Linked DNA regions of Homo sapiens: region 2 is linked to region 1. Evidence: fine-mapped expression QTL. A gene starts in region 1. The other region holds a variant in brackets. All regions are shown on one strand. Distances are from middle to middle.

Evidence for each region.
Region 2: its variant is fine-mapped to the expression of STBD1 in nasal epithelium (TOPMed, PIP above 0.99).

Annotation. Positions count from the first base shown.
Region 1 is chr4:76,304,011-76,309,323 of GRCh38, forward strand. STBD1 (starch binding domain 1) reads left to right here and starts at 2,723. Exons shown (of 2, transcript NM_003943.5): 1 at 2,723-2,979; 2 at 5,134-5,313. The coding sequence starts at 2,760. It overlaps FAM47E-STBD1 (FAM47E-STBD1 readthrough), which reads left to right. Exons shown (of 7, transcript NM_001242939.2): 7 at 5,134-5,313. The coding sequence ends at 5,163.
Region 2 is chr4:76,281,237-76,286,623 of GRCh38, forward strand. FAM47E (family with sequence similarity 47 member E) reads left to right here. Exons shown (of 8, transcript NM_001136570.3): 8 at 2,145-2,547. The coding sequence ends at 2,222. The region is part of intron 6 of FAM47E-STBD1 (FAM47E-STBD1 readthrough); the gene reads left to right. Among named protein-coding and RNA genes, the nearest start is that of STBD1, 23 kb to the right of the region's middle. The variant C/T (reference allele first, on the strand shown) is at 2,111.

The sequences.
Region 1 (5,313 bases):
AATATGATACAATGTAAAAATAATTCTGATGGGTTGAGAAAATAATTTTTGGTATTATTTTAAATAAATGAATGGACATTTATGACAGCAATAAATATTAAGAGCCTTTTAGGTATTATAAGTGAATAGTGGGGCTTACATCTGAAGGATTTTACAGATTCTCTGGGATTTTTATCCCTTAGACAGGAGTCCCCAGACCTTGGTCTGAGGCCTGTTAGGAAGCAGGCTGCACAGTAAGGAGGTGAGTGGTTGGCAAGTGAACATTACAGCCTGAGCTGCACCTCCTATCAGATCAGTAGCGGCATTAGACTCTCATAGGAGCACAAACCCTATGTGAACCGCACATGCAAGGGATCTTATATTTTTATCAGATTTTTTGAGACAGTCTCCCTCTGTCACCCAGGCTGGAGTGCAGTGGCATGATCATGGCTCACTGCAGCCTTCACCTCCCAGGCTTAAGTGATCCTCAGCCTCCTGAGTAGCTGGGACTATAGGCGCCACTGCCTTGCCCAGCTCATTTTTGTATTTTTCCATAGAGACAGGGTTTTGCTATGCTGCCCAGGCTGAAAGAATCTTATTTTATACAGTGACATTCATTCTCTTAAAAATATAGCTTTACGGTTACTTTTTATTATACATAAAATGAATTTCAAGGAACGGTAATATCCACATGGGCTAAAAATGCATATGGAATCTACGTAAGAAAAATGCCAATAATGCTCTAGGGTGAAATTACCTGGGGCTTTTAATTCATTCATTCAACCTGTACTTCTAAGCGCTCACTCCGGAGAGGTTACAGGTGCTAAGAATTCAGCAGAGAACAAAGGACAACCATCCCCGCTGTCATTTACACTCTGAAGGGAGGAAAGAGAAATTAAACCACAGACACACAGATTATAGAGTGTATTAGAAATGACGCCCTAAGTGCTAATGAGAACAATGGAGCAGGGGAAGGATATAGGGAGTAGGATTGTAATTAAAACTGGGATTGTCAAGGAAGGGCTGGGCAGGGGAGGGGGTAGTGGGGATGCAGATGACACTTGTGCCAAGACCTAAAGGGGATGAGAGAGAGAGGATGTCTGCAGGAAGGATGACTCTAGGCAAGGAAGCCAGTGTGGTTGAAGGTGGCAAGATGGAGATGAGTGCACAGTGGTCATGGGGAACAGATCCTGTAGGGTCTTAAAGGTTCTTCCGTGTGATCTGGAGCAACTGGAGGGTCTTGAGCAGAGAACTGGGGTGTTTTAACAGGATCACGCTGACTGGTGGTTTGAAAGTGGCCTGTGGGAGCTTGCTGTGTTTTGTTTTGCAGCAATGGGAAGGATGTGGTTGCCACTTCCTGAGATGGGGAAGGTGGGGAGAGTAGTAGGTTTGGGGAGTTAGGTGGGGAGTTCAGGTCTGGATGAGTTGGGTTTGAGATGTCTATTAGACATCCACGAGGAGATGCCCAGTAGGCAGTCTTCGCCCTCACCTCTCCTCTACCTCCTCTCTTATGATTACAGAAGTTGTGGCCTGCATCAAGGCGTGCATCAGCCTTCCAGTAACCCCACTGGCAGAACCTTGCACCCCGTTAAGGGCTACTGTCCATTCGGAGCAAGGGGCACATTAGATAATTTGCCCTACCAGAGAGAGCAATTATAGCAATTACTCCAAGGCAGGTGTTTGGTATCTGTGGCCTTTAGCAGTTGAATGTCGGAGTCCAAGGGAAAGGTGTGAGCTGCAGACATAGACGTGGGGATCATCAGCTTGAAGCTGTTGTGCAAAGTCATCAGATCAGCAGAGGAAAGGATTTACAAAGAAATATATATAACACCGCACAGGGTTGTTGTCTTGTGAGGATTAAATTAAATACACACTTAAAACATCCGGAATACAGACAGTGCTTAATAAAGAGCTGCTGTTTTTATTAACAAACTTATCTGTAGGAGCTCGTCCATGGACAACATCCAGTTCATACAGATGCGTGCGCATTTCGCAGCAGCCATACACGCCCAAAGAGGACGAGACTGGATGTGATTGAGCTGACTGGCATCTTTAGATGGATGGTCCTCAGTCCAGTCCTTCCATTTTACAGGCGAGGAGGCGGAAGCTTGGGGAGGCTAAGCGCGCTGAGCTGGCGGCGGAGCGGAGCTTCCACTAGGGCTCCCAGTTTCCCCGCACCGCGCCCGCCGTCCTCCGGGCCACCCATCCCACCCGAACGCGCCACCGCTCTAGCCCGCGCTCCAGCCCGCGCGTCACCGACGCCCGCGGCCTCTCCCACCTCTAAGTTCCAGGAAGCTCTCGGCCTCTAGCTGACCGCGTTGCTGCTGAGCTTCCCTGGGGAGAAGGCGCCGAGGTGCCCGGTGCGGGCCGAGGCAGGGCTGGGCCTCGCGGGCAGCAGGCGGAAGAAGGAAGGGCGGTGGGGCAGGTCCCGGCTGCGCGGGGCAGTTGTGCGCACTTGGGTTCTTCACGCGGGACACACGTGGAACGCCGACCCCTGCGCCCCTGGCCGCTGGCAACTGGCAAGGCCGGGAACAGAAAGTGTAGGGACAGAAGAGCGCTGGAGTCTTCCCCGGGAGGGAGCCCGGGGCTGCAGCCCAGGGGCGGGGAGCGGGGCGGGGCTGGGAAAGTTGAGTACTGGTCGCTCAGGGCCGGGCTCCGCCGGAGTGCCCGGCGCAGAAACCGTAAAAGGCTGGAGCGGGCGGGGTAGGTGTGGCTCTGTGTGCGTGACCTGAGCCCCGGTCCCAGTCCCTGTAGTCTCCTGCGGCCGCGGCCTCTCAGCCATGGGCGCCGTCTGGTCCGCCCTGCTGGTTGGAGGGGGTCTGGCCGGAGCACTTTTCGTTTGGCTGCTGCGGGGCGGCCCTGGCGACACCGGGAAGGACGGGGATGCGGAGCAGGAGAAAGACGCCCCTCTTGGGGGAGCTGCGATTCCGGGAGGCCATCAGAGTGGCAGCAGCGGACTGAGCCCTGGACCTTCCGGGCAGGAGCTGGTCACCAAACCAGGTATTCTTCCCCCCGTGACTCCAGGGCACATCTGCCAGAGCTTTGAGGTTCATCGAGGAAGGGAGCAAAGAGACAAACCCACCTGGAGCTTTCCTAGGGGCCCATTCCTGCGGACGGGCTCTCCTAAGGGGACTGGGCCATCCCCACGCCCCTCGGTTTCCCAGGCTGGTTGGTACGCGCAGGCAGGTTTCTTGTCTGGTCCTCCAAGGGCCGCGCCCTTGCCGAGTCCCTCAGCGCCCGCGCCTGAGGACTTGGTCCTGCCCCTCCGGCGGGGATGAGCTCCTCCACTTGGCGGCGCTTGGTGCAGTGCGGGCGGCTGCAGTGGCGGCGCCCCTTCCCGGCCTTTGGAAAGGGGGGCTTAGGTTTAGGGGATCCTACAAGCCTCTTCGATCTCTGCCCAAGCAGGGACATTTTCTAAGTCCCAATCCGGGTAGTCTGACATCCTCCCATCGCACAGCCCATGAAGAGCTGGGTTTGGGAACACCCGAACTGCGGGCGCCTCCTGCTATCTGGATGCTTCTTTAGGAAGGCAAAGTTCAGGTTGGACTCTGGCCATGAAGGCTGTGGCTGAGGCCCTGGGGATGTGCCTTGGTCACCCCTTTCAGCACTGTCGGCAGTCCCCTCCACGCTGCCCCAGAATAGGGCCGGATAGTCATCCCTAGGAAGGGACTACTTAAATAGGGGACCCAACCCTGATGAGTAGAATTGACATCTGGGTTTAAATTTCTGTATTTTAGGGACCGTTTGCTAAGCAGAGAGCGAACACTGGCAGAAAAGCTTACCGTCCAGTGCCCTCCCTTGGCAAGCTGCCCATGCCTGGACAGAAGCCTAATGGTGAAAATGACATCTGTGAACTTTATTTTTAGCCCAGTGGTGTTCATGTGCAGCCATATGAAAATCTGCCCGTGTGCCTTTACTGTGATTGGTCTGGGATGCCTAGACAGTTCACTTATCTTTTTTCTGAAGACCAATCTCATGCTTTAGGTTGAAAAGTTGGGAATCCAGAATAATATTTGTTCATTCTCACTTCCAACTCCCACCATCACCGAGGCGGGCAAATCACAAGGTCAGGAGTTCGAGACCAGCCTGGCCAATATGGTGAAACCCTGTCTCTACTAAAAGTACAAAAATTAGCTGGGCGTGGTAGTAGGCGCCGGTAGTCCCAGCTACTTGGGAGGCTAAAGCAGGAGAATCGCTTGAACCCGGGAGACAGAGGTTGCAGTGAACCGAAATCGTACCACTGCACTCACTCCAGCCTGGGTGACAGAGCGAGACTCCATCTCAAAAAAAAAAAAAAAAAAGGGATAAAATGAAACAAGACTGTTGTCCCCATACCACCACCACCCCCACACCACATAAAACCACAGCTGTGCTGATTGTATGTATGATTTGGAGATTTCAATCTTGTAGGGAGCTATTTGGACTACCAATGGCATGGCCAAGAAGGAAACTGCATTTTTAGAGGACTTGGATTTTGTATTTTTAAGAACGTTTTTTAAAAAATGCTTACAATGGAAGGGGATACAAAACACCGTTTTGTTGGGGAGGTTCCTAACGCATATGGGATTGGCAAGGAGAAACCAGCCCCTTCCCCCAGTTCTCCCTCCACTCCTGCCCAGGGAAGCACTACTGTTCTCCGTATCTCCCCAAGGTGACAGCTCCTGCTGATCTGCCCGCAGGTCTGCGAGAGCCAATCCCTGCCCTGCATGCCTCCCCTGGGAGAACAAGTGTACTCTTCTGGTTTGTAACGTAGCCACGCAGCCCTTTGCCCCACAGCCTGGACAACATTCTTTGATGATAGGAGCCAAGCAACTTAACTTGGCTGCATGCCAGTATGGCCTGGACTGTGGAGACTGGGGACCATGGGGGGGTTACACGTCTGCCTCTACAGCTTACCACTTCATTTACACTTGTGCTGGCACACTGATACTCCTGGATGTCCCTTTTGTTGTCAGATATACATGTGTATTCTTAGAGCACAGTGTTGGGAGCATACTGGTTAATTAAGTAGTACTTGATTTTAATAGAGGGGGACTTTGTGAATTGCAGATTGATTAGTAGTAAAGCTTTCAGTAACTAAATCTATTTTCTCAGCCTGACTTTTTTCTTAAATGAACTACCTGACTCTATTACATTTTTCCTTTGATTTCTTAGAGCATCTTCAAGAAAGCAATGGACATTTGATTTCTAAGACCAAAGACCTTGGTAAACTGCAAGCAGCATCATGGAGATTGCAGAATCCTTCCAGGGAAGTCTGTGACAATTCAAGAGAACATGTTCCTTCTGGACAGTTTCCAGACACAGAAGCTCCAGCTACCTCTGAGACCAGTAACT
Region 2 (5,387 bases), 23 kb before region 1:
ACAATAGCTGATACAGCTAGCAAATAAATGTAGGACAAAGTTCAGAATCAGACTGGTTTCAAAGTTAAATCAGGCAAGTCTAGAGCATGAGATGGAGATTTGAGACTGGGAAACTCCATTATAGAACTGGTTTGGAGGAACTCCTTTAGCTTTGAACATCAATACTAGGTCTGCTAGATATATTTAATATACAAATAACTGCCTAATCTGTATATAAGGTTTGCATAACTATATTTATATATAATATATAAAATATAAAATATGCATCTATAGCTTTAATATTACATAATTATGTGTTTACGAGTCCATATTAGATATGTAAAAATGTACTTCTGTGGTATATGTGTGTGTATATATAAATCCTTATTTGCCATTGATATTATTGTGGCTCATTTTTGTATCTTAACATTTTTAGTGGCAAAACACCCTTCTTTTTTTCATTTTGATGTGTTCCCTATTGATTTAATCCATACTGTTCATGAACATTTAGTTCAGTTTTGGGCAAAAGGAAGCATGCCTGACACACTGGCTATTGCAGGATCTGGCCAGCAGCCCGCAATGCAACGGGGCTCTCTGTTCCCAGGCGGATTGGCAGGTTGAGAAATAATAGACACACACAAGATAGTGAAAGCTGGGTCCAGGGGTGTCACCGCCTTCTGGTCCCACGGTGCCAACAATGCACTGGATATACCAGCATTTATTATTAAGTTTAGTGAGGGCGGGGGTAGGTTAGTGAGAGATTTAGGGTCATTTGATTGTGAGATGAGATGGTCACATGGGGATGAAGTAATTCTTTAACATAACATTTGTATGTAGAAGTACAGTACATTTGTATGTAGAAGTACAGTGTACAGAGATAAGAATTTACAATATAGTGTGTGCGTCAATAATTTCTAACAGAATCTTAAAATAGAAACACAATCTTTCCATAACCTATGATTAGCAAGATATTAATCAACAGTAACAGTTGCCACAAAAGCTGGTTACAAACAATCCATGGAAACAGGAGGTGAAGCTAGACAACCAGTTAGACCAGAAATTCTCAGAAGGGAGTATGCCTTAACCCTAAAGAGGCCTAGAAGAGCTGTGGCAAGATGAGGGCATTTATAGCCCTATCTTATCCATATGGACAGGCGCCCCCCATGTGTCCGTTTATAGGCTTTCCACAAGGGTCGCATTCCATTCCCAGAGCTATGAACATCTGCTTTTCTGGGATAGGAATGTTGGTGATGTGCAACCTCCCTGACTGCACGTCCGTTCATAGGCTGTCTGCAGGGGGAAGCACATCATGCGCTGTTGGCTCGTTCTGGCAGCCCAACCTGGCATTGTCTTTACACAATCCTGCATGCAATTTTGTATTTACAATAATCAGGAGCATTTCATCTTTTATTCCGTAGCAATAGTTTCAGGGGGTCTCCCTACATCTGGCTGTCCTCTTTTCAGTCACATTGACTAGAGAAATGATGCCCCTGGTCACAACAGAGTCCTCTGAGAACACCTGTCACTCAAAACCCTACAATATTTTGTCCCTTTATTCTTACATCCTATATTCTTATTTTATCAATAAGATTTCAACTGAAGGAGAGAAGGGGCTCTATCACAGGGAATAAGATATATATGCATATACACACACACAGTATATAAATATATGTGTGTGTATGTGTGTGTGTGTATACACAGTTATTATTTACTTAAATCTATATGTGAACATTCATTCTTTTTTTTAACCTCCTGTGTACATTCACATATGTTATGTGAACATATGCACTTACCTACACATTCCAGTATCTGCTGCTGGATTAACTACTTGATGCATCACCCACAGCCTCATTCCCTCTGCTGCACGGATGGATCCCAAGCCTTAGTAGCAGGGATGGGCAGCACAAGGCTATGTTGAGCTGGGCTGGGCCAGACTTGGGCACAGAACAAGTGTGAATTCCATCTGAGTGTTTCTGATACTGTGTGACTACCTTCCAAAGACCAACATCTATCATGGTCAGATTATTAACATGTGATTTTGCATAGTGTAAGGATATATATTAGAGTGTGAAATTTTGAGTTAGATATGGTAGTGGTTGTGGGGAGGACTGTACTGTGCAAGTTTTGTTTG[C/T]CAATCTAATGAAGGTTCTCTCATTTTTTTTTAGTTCCTTGAGAATATGTATATCGGGAAGGAATGTAAACGTGCATGTAATAAGACTCCTATAAAACGAACTCAAGCATAGAAGAATCGTAGGAGAATGATTAGGCAGATTTTATTACTACGTACTTGGCTATTTCTCTGTCTCCTTTTAAAGATTAAACAGAGTTTATGATGAGTGTCCCACTGTGGATGTTCAACTTTGACTTGGCAACATCTGTAAATGTAATACCTGATGGTTATAAGCATTTCTCAATGGATTTCTGCTTCAGTTAATCAACATTTTGTATACTTTATCACCCATGAGATCAATATTCACATGTAATCTTCTCATATTTTTGTGGCACGTGAATATTATATAGGTATATCAACTATTGGTAAAAATAAATAAAGGCATAAATAAAAACAGACTTACTCTATTGCCTTTTTCCCAGGTTTTTCCCCTGGTATTGAATGAGTACCTCCTTTCCTCTTCCTTTACAATATTATTTTCTTTCATTTTGAATTAAATTTACTGAGATATTTTTTCCTTTTGTCCGCATTGCCATGGGTGGATATGGTCTGTTTGGCCCCGCTAAATCTTATGTTGCAGCTTGATCCCCAGTGTTGGACATGGGGGCTGGTTTGAGATGTTTGAGTCATGGGGGTGGATCCCTCGTGAATGGCTTGGTGCCATTCTCACAGGAGTGAGTGAATTCTCACTCTTAGTTCCTGTGAGAACTGGTTATTGTAAAGAGCCTGGCTCCTCCTCCTCTCTCTTGCTTGTTCTCTCACCATGTGATGTCTGCACATGCTAGCTCCCCTTTGCCTTTTGCCACGAGTGGAAGAATCCTGAAGCCCTCACCAGAAGCAGATGCTGGCACCATGCTTCTTGTACACCCTGTAGAGCTATGAGCCAAATAAATTTCTTTTCTTAAAAATTACCCAGCCTCAGGTATTCCTTTGTAGCAACACAAATGGACTAAGACAGGCATGTTAGTGTTGATAATAAATGTGTATCTATAACATAAGGTCATAGGTCAGAAGGTTTAATGGAAACTCAAGATGACATGTATTTTAATTACCTTTTAAAAATTATATTTTATTTTAAAATGTTAATACTCTCTGGGTGTGACCACTCACTCCTATAATCCCAGTGCTTTGGGAGGTCAAGTCAGGAGGATGGCTTGAATCCAGTAGTTCAAGGCTGCAGTGAGCTATAATCATGCCAGTGCCCTTTTGCCTAGGTGACAGAGTGAGATCCTGTCTCTAAAAAAAAGTTAATGCTCATATTAGGAAAATCAGAAAACATAGACTAGCAAAAAGAACATAGAAAATACTAATTCTTCCTATAGAGTTAGCAGTAACTGCTCTTTGCTCATTGGAATGTATCCTAGATTTTTTTCTATGAAACATATAGGGAATAATTTAATCAAAAAAGGATTTATTGAAAGGAAATTATTTATTAAAAACATATTCTGTCCACAGAGTATCTTTTTTTTTAACTTTTACTTTAAGTTCCGGGATACATGTGCAGAATGTTCAGGTTTGTTACATTAGGTATACATGTGTCATGGTGGTTTGCTGCACCTATCAACCTGTCATCTAGGTTTTAAGCCCTGCATGCATTAGGTATTTGTCCTAATGCCCTCCCTCCCCTTGCCCTCCACCCTCTGGCTGGCCCCTGTGTATGATGTTCCCCTCCCTGTGTCCATGTGTTCTCATTATTCAACTCCCACTCATGAGTGAGAACATGTGGTGGTTGGTTTTCTGTTCCTGTGTTAGTTTGCTGAGGACGATGGTTTCCAGCTTCATCCATGTCCCTGCAAAGGATGTGAACTCATTCTTTTTTATGCTGCATAGTATATGTGCCACATTTTCTTTAATCCAGTCTATCATTGATGGGCATTTGGGTTGGTTCCAAGTCTTTGCTATTGTAAATAGTGTTTCAACAAACATACATGTGCTAGAATGATTTATAATCCTTTGGGTGTATACCCAGTAATAGGATTGCTGGGTCAAATGGTACTTCTGGTTCTAGATCCTTGAGGAATCACCACACTGTCTTCCACAATGGTTGAACTAATTTACACTCCCATCAACAGTGTAAAAGCATTCCTATTTCTCCACATCCTCTCCAGCATCTGTTGTTTCCAGACTTTTTAATGATCGCCATTTTAACTGGCATGAGATGGTATCTCATTGTGGTTTTGATTTGCATTTCTCTAATGACCAGTGATGATGAGCTTTTTTTCATATGTTTGTTGGCCACATAAATGTTTTCTTTTGAGAAGTGTCTGATCATATCCTATACCCACTTTTTGATGGGGTTGTTTGTGTTTTATTTTGTAAATTTGTTTAAGTTCCTTGTAGATTCTGGATATTAGGCTTTTGTCAGATGGATAGATTGCAAAAATTTTCTCCCATTCTGTAGGTTACCTGTTCATGCTGATGATAGTTTCCTTTGCTGAGCAGAAGCTCTTTAGTTTAATTAGATCACATTTGTCAATTTTGGCTTTTGTTGCAATTGCTTTTGGTGTTTTAGTCATGAAGTCTTAGTCCATGCCTATGTCCTGAATGGTATTGCCTAGGTTTTCTTCTAGAGTTTTTATGGTTTTAGGTTTTATGTTTAAGTCTTTAATCCATCGTGAGTTAATTTTTATATAAGGTGTAAAGAAGAGGTCCAGTTTCTGTTTTCTGCATATGGCTAGCCCATTTTCCTAGCACCGTTTATTAAATAGGGAATCCTTTCCCCATTGCTTGTTTCTGTCAGGTTTGTCAAAGATCAGATGGTTGTAGATGTGTGATGTTATTTCTGAGGCCTCTGTCCTGTTCCATTGGTCTATCTGTCTTTTTGGTACCAGTACCATGCTGTTTTGTTTACTGTAGCCTTGAAGTATAGTTTGAAGTCAGGTAGCATGATCCCTCCAGCTTTGTTCTTTTTGCTTAAGATTATCTTGGCTATATGGGCTCTTTTTTGGTTCCATATGAAATTTAAAGTAGCTTTTTCTAGTTCTATGAAGAAAGTCAATGATAGCTTGATGGGAATAGCATTGAATCTATAAATTGCTTTGGACAGTTATGGCCATTTTCACAATATTGATTCTTCCTCTCCATGAGCATGGAATGTTTTTCCATTTGTTTGTGTCCTCTCTTATTTCCTTGAGCAGTGGTTTGTAGTTCTCCTTGAAGAGGTCCTTCACGTCCCTTGTAAGCTGTATTCCTAGGTGTTTTATTCTCTTTGTAGCAACTGTGAATGGGAGTTCACTCA